2 linked regions of the Homo sapiens genome follow. The protein of the gene in region 1 purifies or fractionates together with the protein of each later gene. This does not show direct contact. Each region holds a gene or a part of one and is shown on either strand. Other genes may lie near its edges.

Region 1 (3,972 bases):
CCACAGGACAAACAGAGGACATAGAAAGACTTCCTCCTGTCTAGTGCTGTAATACCTGTTTATAGGATGGTGAGCCCGGAGGTTCTAAACCTGGATTTTTCAAGGAGCAACAAGATCCAAAGAGTTCTTGAAGGCCACAAGGGCAGCCCAGGCTCCCTAACTCATGACTTAATGGTCATTGAGGCCCACCACAATTCCCTTCCTTTCTAGAAGTTGACTAAGTTCTAAGAAGTTTTTAACGTTTCTTCCACGTGGAAACTCGCTTACATTTAGTGGCTCTCAGATAAAACAAGATTCTGGAAGCTGAGAATTATAACTTAAATTAACGTTCTTGGAGAAAGGAAGAGGTTAAGAATTTATGAAGGAGCCAGAGAAGCATGGATGCTTGGGATTTGAATATCAACTGTGAAATTGCAGGAAACCAAGCATTTCATCAGGTAGTAATGATCCATTGGAGCTTAGGGTTTCAAAACTAGGTTTAATTCTTAACGAGTTTTCACACTGAAACTCTTATGTAAAAGACCTGGGTTAAGGTAAAACAGATAGTTTGTATGGTGGTTTCCAATAAGCAGTACATAAAACTGCATTTGGAGATTTGTCCACCATGCAGTAATTTCCATTTAAACCAAGGAACCTCCTAAAAAGGGGAGGGGGCAGTATGAATGCTCTTTCTAAGTCTACATCTGTCTGTAGATTTTTTTTTTTTAGCCGCATTTAGTGCTGTTTTTTTTCCAATCTGGTTTCTTGCTAAGTTGCACATTTCAATGAAGCATCCAAATTGGTCATTCTGATAACACCCGAAATAACCAGATGTTTCCTCATTAATCCAGTTCTTTTGCATGTAAATATGACACCAAGAACCAATACTTTCTCCAGTTAGCTCATGGTGCCTGGCGGGCTCTGCCAAATGAATTAGTCGTGGCTCAGTCATTTTCTGATGTCCTTTAAATGACTTCTCAGTTGCTACATATTGGTCACTTTCTCAGAGTCTCCCTTGGCAAAGCAAACATTTTATTGACACGGAATGTAGTTGACGCAGAAGTTTGACCAGGTGTTGTGCACATTGGTTTTGAAAAATGAGCCTGATGACATAGTTTGTGGAAAGATGAATTCACTCATGGGATTCTACTCCAAGAAATCTGATTCTTAGATATCATATGAAACAAAAACTTGAATCCATTATCCCTATTTACTTTTAGGCATATTCATATACATATACTCTTTTCCCTAAAGCTCTTGACTTAACCATGGTTCCACTGTCAGTAAAATATTTTGATTCTTACATATTTTTAAGTACCTCAATAAGATTAGGAGTTTAAAGCTAAACTTTATTTAAAGGCCAAACATATCTACCTGTCTGACTTTCTAATTTTGTATCTACATTGCCCCCAGAAATAGAAAATCTTTATTCCATTTTAATAGCAACACATAAATGCCCACAAAATTTTATAAGATCTGTTCATAGTTCCTATTACCTGAATCCATGGAAGAAACAAACATATTCTTCCTGGGAGTGTTTGTTGCATATTTGCAGGCATGGTATTTGTTGTGCAGACTACTTGAAACAAGAACTAAACAGTCTTACACTGAGTCAGATACAAAAGTTCTGCCCAGACTTGATTCACATTCTTGAGATTGCTGCTAATTTAAACCTTTTCCTCTGATTAGAGATGGCATGAGGAAATGCAATCTTGTAATAATTGGGCAGATCATGCCCTCTCACATGTTAGCTGCTGCTGCGTTCAGATGTGCTCATGGTGGTCACTAAATATACCAAAAGTTAATCTACTTTTCTCTGCCAAAAATATGCAATAGCTTTAGCTTACTCTTCTTGGTAAAAATTTCTTAAGGGGGAAAGGGAAGCTTTTCAGATGAAGGTTCAAGTTAAATAAATTATATTTATGAAATATTCAACAAGAAGAGTTTTCAGTTCTCCAACTCCTCTAAAGCCTCACAGTGTTTAAACTGGTACTTTGCAAAAGGTTCCATAAAGCCTTCCTTTTGGGCATGAATCTTCTTACATATACATTTAATTATGTACATATATGGTGTGTTCTATATTTGCGAAAGGGTGACTTCAGCAGGCAGGTATGTGTCTGAAGAATTAGTTTCTGGGTGAGGCACGTTGTGACTATTCTTTGGCTGGAAATTTTGCTCTCACCCAGAATTAATGATCTTGAATACAAAGATGGGTAGATCTGAAATTTCAAAAGCTCTCTAGAACTTTGCTGATGTTTGCCAAACTTGAGCAACTCAGAGAACCCCAAGTGTACACTTGTTCCAATCTACCCCCAGCAAAGCCTTTCAACTATATTTTCTGGGTGAGCGGGGTACACATTTTGCATATATAGTGTAGTTGTTTCTTTACAATATAGAGTTTCCCTAAGTTTTTCCTTCAGAGGTGTGGCAGGTTACTTAAAAAGGACCTTGGAATAGGGTTGCGAGCTTAAAAGTTTCATATAGTACCAGAGAAATGCTGCATCTGAGAATTTCCATATGCATGAAGCCTATTCCACATGCTGAAAAAGAGTTTCATTTGACAAGCCAAACGCAGTCCCTAAATGTTATTGGACTTTAGTGCATTCTTAGGTACTAGAGCACATACTCTGTGTATATCAATACCTACCATGTACTGCAGTTAAAGTTGAATACTTTCATACTTAGTAAAAATTGTTGAGCCCTCCTGCTTGTGCTGTGTTTAGTTCTACAGTTAGCACCTTGGGAGTTTTTCATGTGCATCTTTTAAAAACACCTATAGAAGTTAATTTTTTTTTTTTTTTTTTGCCGTTTGGCTTCACAGGGTGTTGTAAGACTTTTCTGGAGGGATATAGGAGTTAGGGGCAGGTATTGTTCCTGCTTTACCCACTTACTTTCAGCTCCTTCCTTTGGTGTCATTTCTGCCCCTCTTTATTGCTTCTCACTTCACAGAGTCATTTCTGGAATTCCTCTTCCTTTTTTTTTGGCATGCGTTGTCTCACGCATACCTGTGATTCCACCGTGCCCTCTCCAGCTTTGCTTGCCTTACTTCCTTTGTGCAGTCTCTTGGGCTTTATGGGGAAGAAAAGGAAGGATTCCAAGTGCTTAAACACAGAGTAAACACTGTAAAGTTACACAGGAGGTGTTTTTGTGTGTGAGTGTTTTTGTTTTTTGTTTTGCTTTGTTTTTTTTTTTATCCTGAAAGTCCTGCTGAGCTGATGACTTACATCTTTCCTGGTGGGACAGTTCTTGATAATTCTATATCAATATTTTTCACTGTGAATAAATAGAGACAATAGATATTTCTATCTAAGACAAGATAAACTTAACCTATCAAAAATATAGTGAATAAATGGTCTTGTTATTTTAAATAAATTACTCTTGTCATTGGCAGTCAAATTATGCTTATAACTAAGAAATATGGGAATCAGTTTTACTATTACCTTTGGACACTCGTGTTGATCTAAAAGCAGCACTGTTCATTAGCAAAAGTAATAGAATGGGATCAAAGTGTCATCCCTAATTAGATCATGTTAAACCTCTTAAAAATTACCTGTCTACCTCCACAAGCACGGTGGTTTATTTCTCATAAACCTTTGCACTACATATGTATTTTCACTTATACTGTTAACCGGATAAAAACAAAAGCAGATACAAACTTCCCTGAAAATCTGGTTTAACTGGAGAACTCCGTTTCATTTTAAAATCAGGCCAGAGTCTAAATTTTGCAGATATTTAGATATATGCACTAAGCACAGAAGCCAGCCCACTTGATTTTAGTAGGTAGCAGTCTCCAGCAGGTGACTCAGGGCTGAGCACAAAGCCAGATCTCCTTTGTGGCCATAAAATGGGTGGGGGACGGGAAACATAGTCCACAAAGGGGGGAGGGGTATTCCCAGCAGTCATGTGGTGGCCTGAATGTTGAAACCATTCCTCAGGATTTTCCTGGCAGTCTCAATTTTAATTAAACTCTTTTATCCTCTTTGTATTTCTTCA
Region 2 (3,740 bases), on another chromosome or scaffold:
ATATGTACATACATACACACACATACATACAGGAACACACATACAGTATATTCTCTATTTGATGAAAATGATCTGTTTGGTGATCTTGTTATACTTAAAATGACTCAGTGGAATACTGTTTCAGAACCAAACCGATTAGTTAGACAAGCATTCCTTATTGCATTAGGAAGAGACAAGAGGAAGGGAAAATAGCTAAGAAGCGGTTAATGTTAATCTAGGTGAGAGGTGGTGAGAATCTGGGTGAAACAATATTGAATAAGGAGAAATTAATACATTTCAAAATAAATGGGGGAAGGTTTTTTTACATTAAGATGAAATAGACCCCTGGTTCTCCACCCTGGCTGCACATTACAATTGCAAGGGAGATTTTTTGTTTGTTTTTTCAACCCTGCCTGGATCCCACCCTAGACCAATTAAATCAGAATCTCAGGGGCCAAGGAACTTAAGGAAAAAAAATCTTCCCAGGTAATTCTAATATGCACTCAGGGCTGAGAAACCCTAAAATTGTTTATTTTTTAAGCACTCAAGAAATATTTGTTCTTTGAGTGAATAAGAACATTGATAAAAGTTTAGTTATTAACCTTAAAGCCACTTGTCAAGAAAGTCAAAACCAAAACTAGGAACTAAATACTCAAAAATTGTTTCAAATTGTTTGATAAATTTACGTGAAGAAAATGATGCCCCCTAAACATGTAGCAGCAAAATCTTTTCTCTGCTAACAGGCTTCCTATGAGGGAAAATGTATTTTAGGCAGCTGTTTGCAGAGTTTATCTTTGGTGTCTTTTTACCTCTCTCTGCATTTCTAGTGTCTGTTCTTCACTTGCCTCCTCCCTTTGTCCCCATCACACTTTTCTCCTTTCTCTTTCTCTCTTCAACCTCACTCCTCTTACTTTATTGGGATAGAGCTCAGGTAAATGATTATGGCAGCCTCTCTAGGAGATTAACATTTAAAAGGGGGAGTTTGCTAATTTACTTGAATCTCCAATTGGTGATTGGAGATTCATGACCTTTTTGAGTAGATCTCCCTTCCAGATACTCCTTGATTAAAATTTTCACCCACATAAGGACATAAAACAGTGATCAGAAAGTTGGTAACCCATTTCAGTAAAGTAGCTGACTCTTGCTGTAATGTCTTCTCCGAGATGGTCTGTAGATAGATTTGACAAGATGAAGGGAAATTGCATAGAACTTTTTGGTCCATCTGGATACTATGATAATTTGTTGACTTGAAAGTGAATTTAATTGTTACCCAAACAAATCCTGAAACCTTGCATAGTTGACTCTGTCACCAGTGCTACAAATAAGTGGATATGTTTCAGCGTACTTGCTGCTGCTCCCTCTGCTTCTTTATACCTGTTTATGTACATGAGCAGTAGGTCTGTGAAACAGATTTAGGAATTCTTACATCAGATTCTGCCGTGTCCTGGATAATCACGTGTTTTCCTGTAAACCAGGAGTCAACTCTAGTATTTCCTACATGTGCTGGTTCACCTTTTCAACTGTAGGGCATGGTGCATTGTATCAGGTTGTAAAATGGAGCCAGATAAACACAGCATTTGATTTTGTGAGGTGAAGGTCCTCTCAGTGCATTTAGTGGAATGAGCTCATGATTGTGATTTTGTGGCCTTATTCAAATATCTGCCTTGCTTCATTTAATAAATGTCTTCCTGAAAAATCGAATGTGAAGCACATTTTTGACAGTTGACTCATATTTTAATTGCTATAGATTGAATCTGAATTACTGAACCTTGTACTGATTTATTCAGTGATAAGTTCTACAGCATACTTATCCCTTAATTTCTTTCATTTAAAATAAAATGTTATCTTTAATTGAAGGGTACATTCATCATTAAGATAATACCATTTATACAGCTCTTTATACATTTTTAAGTACTTTCATATATATTATCCTATTGTATCCTAATAATAACCCTGTGAGCTTGGCAGAGTACATAGTAATTGCTCGTTGTGGTTGAGAGACAGGTTAAGTGATTTGTCCAAAGTTAAATGGTGAGTCTGGCAGAGTGTGTGGGTCAGAGCCTAGGTTTTTCAACTCCAGTGCTATCCTAATGTTATTTCCAGTGTAACACATTCTCTCTTTATAAAAAAGCAGTTATTAAACACCATGCCAATAAATAGGTTATTTATTCTGAAAATTCAATGCTTATTTAACTTCGTAGGTTATATACTTTTTGTTTGTGGTATGGTGTGTTTTGTTTTGTGTGTATTTGCATAGCTATCATGCCTCTCTTATGGTTTTAGAATAGATTCATTAAGCAAGCATTTATTGAACTCCTACTTTGGAAACATGATTATGGCTAATAAAAAGAGACATGGTTTTTGTACTTAAAGGATTTATACAATAGTCAAATGTATACAGTAATATAACCATTAGAAAAGAATTTCACTATAATATATAATAGTATTCAAAATAATATATTTTAATATACTGTACACATAAGAGATCTGGAACTGTGGCATAAGGCTTAATTTTAGAGGGGATTAATTTAGTTTGAGAAAGCTTCCTGAAAAGTTAGGTTAGGTATTTGTTGCATGACAGGTATAAGAACAGAAGTGGTTGATTGGGATGTTTTAAAATTGGGGTTAGTGGAATACTTTTGCTTAAGGTTTAAATTTAATATTTCAATTTAGATTATTTGTGATATAAATTCTGAAGCATTTATTTGGCATGAAGGTAGACAAGATCCAGAACCTCACTGAGAACATAAGAAGTAATGCTAGGGACACTTACTACAAATAAAGATAATTGAAGACTTACAAAATTGATTTGCTGGGAGGTGCCATTTGTTTAAGTTCCTAGGCACACAGTGAAACTTTGCAAAAGAGGCATCTTGTTCTCCCAGCCCAGCCTAGCAGCCCACTCTGTGAGATGCCTTAACTGCATGATACACACCTCCCCATTCTGCAGAGGCTAGTGATCATCATGACCTAGAAAGGGAAATATTTTAGTTTTCTTTTTTTCTCTACACTTTGAGTGTATTTGGGTGCTTCTTAAAACATTGTAATACTCTTATAATCAGTTATCTGGAAAGTTTCAGAAAGGGTTGTCTGCTTCTCATTTACAGAAAAAAAAATACCTTACACGCCAGGGAACCATTTAATGTAATTAAAGAAAACTGTATAAGCCAATTTAATAACAATGTAAGTTTATGTTTACTCTCACTTTCAGCTAGTGCACTCAATCTGCTAAAGGTCAAACTGTAATGTTTAATCTTTACATTTCTCTTGTTTCATGTAAATAGATAGCATTCCATTAACAGAATACCTGTCAATGGACTGTAATGGATAATTCAACAGTAGATATTTTCTAATGTATTTTTTATATCAAATTCTTTGAGGAAAAGTTTTTTCCAAATAGGAAAGTAAGTTCTTTCCTTTTCAGGAACACTTGATTCTGTGTAGTCTTTTCTAATTTGTGACAGAGAATGTTGTCACTTTATTTTTAGATTAATTACTTGTCTCAGTAGAATATTAGAGATTCAAGGTGACAAGAGACAGGTATAAGATAACTGTGACATAAACTTTTCTTTGAACCATATGGAGATGAACTGATTCTAGAACATTTGTGAATTTGGATTTCACTCAGAAATGGCTTTTTGTTAATGATTATGTTCCTAAGAGAATCTAGTATGTATAGTCTAGAGTTTTTCACTTCTTAAAAAAATAATTGCAATACGTAAATCCTTAGTATTTTGAGCTACTTGGTTGGGGATGTCTAT

The links.
Region 2: the proteins of RND3 (region 1) and LRCH2 purify together in Homo sapiens (affinity purification with mass spectrometry, with the first as the bait; one large-scale study listed by BioGRID). This does not show direct contact.

The regions. Positions count from the first base shown.
Region 1 is NC_000002.12:150,477,391-150,481,362, reverse strand, and holds part of RND3 (rho-related GTP-binding protein RhoE precursor), read left to right. Parts: intron 1-3,972. UniProt on the Homo sapiens protein: Binds GTP but lacks intrinsic GTPase activity and is resistant to Rho-specific GTPase-activating proteins.
Region 2 is NC_000023.11:115,227,597-115,231,336, reverse strand, and holds part of LRCH2 (leucine-rich repeat and calponin homology domain-containing protein 2), read left to right. Parts: intron 1-3,740. UniProt on the Homo sapiens protein: May play a role in the organization of the cytoskeleton.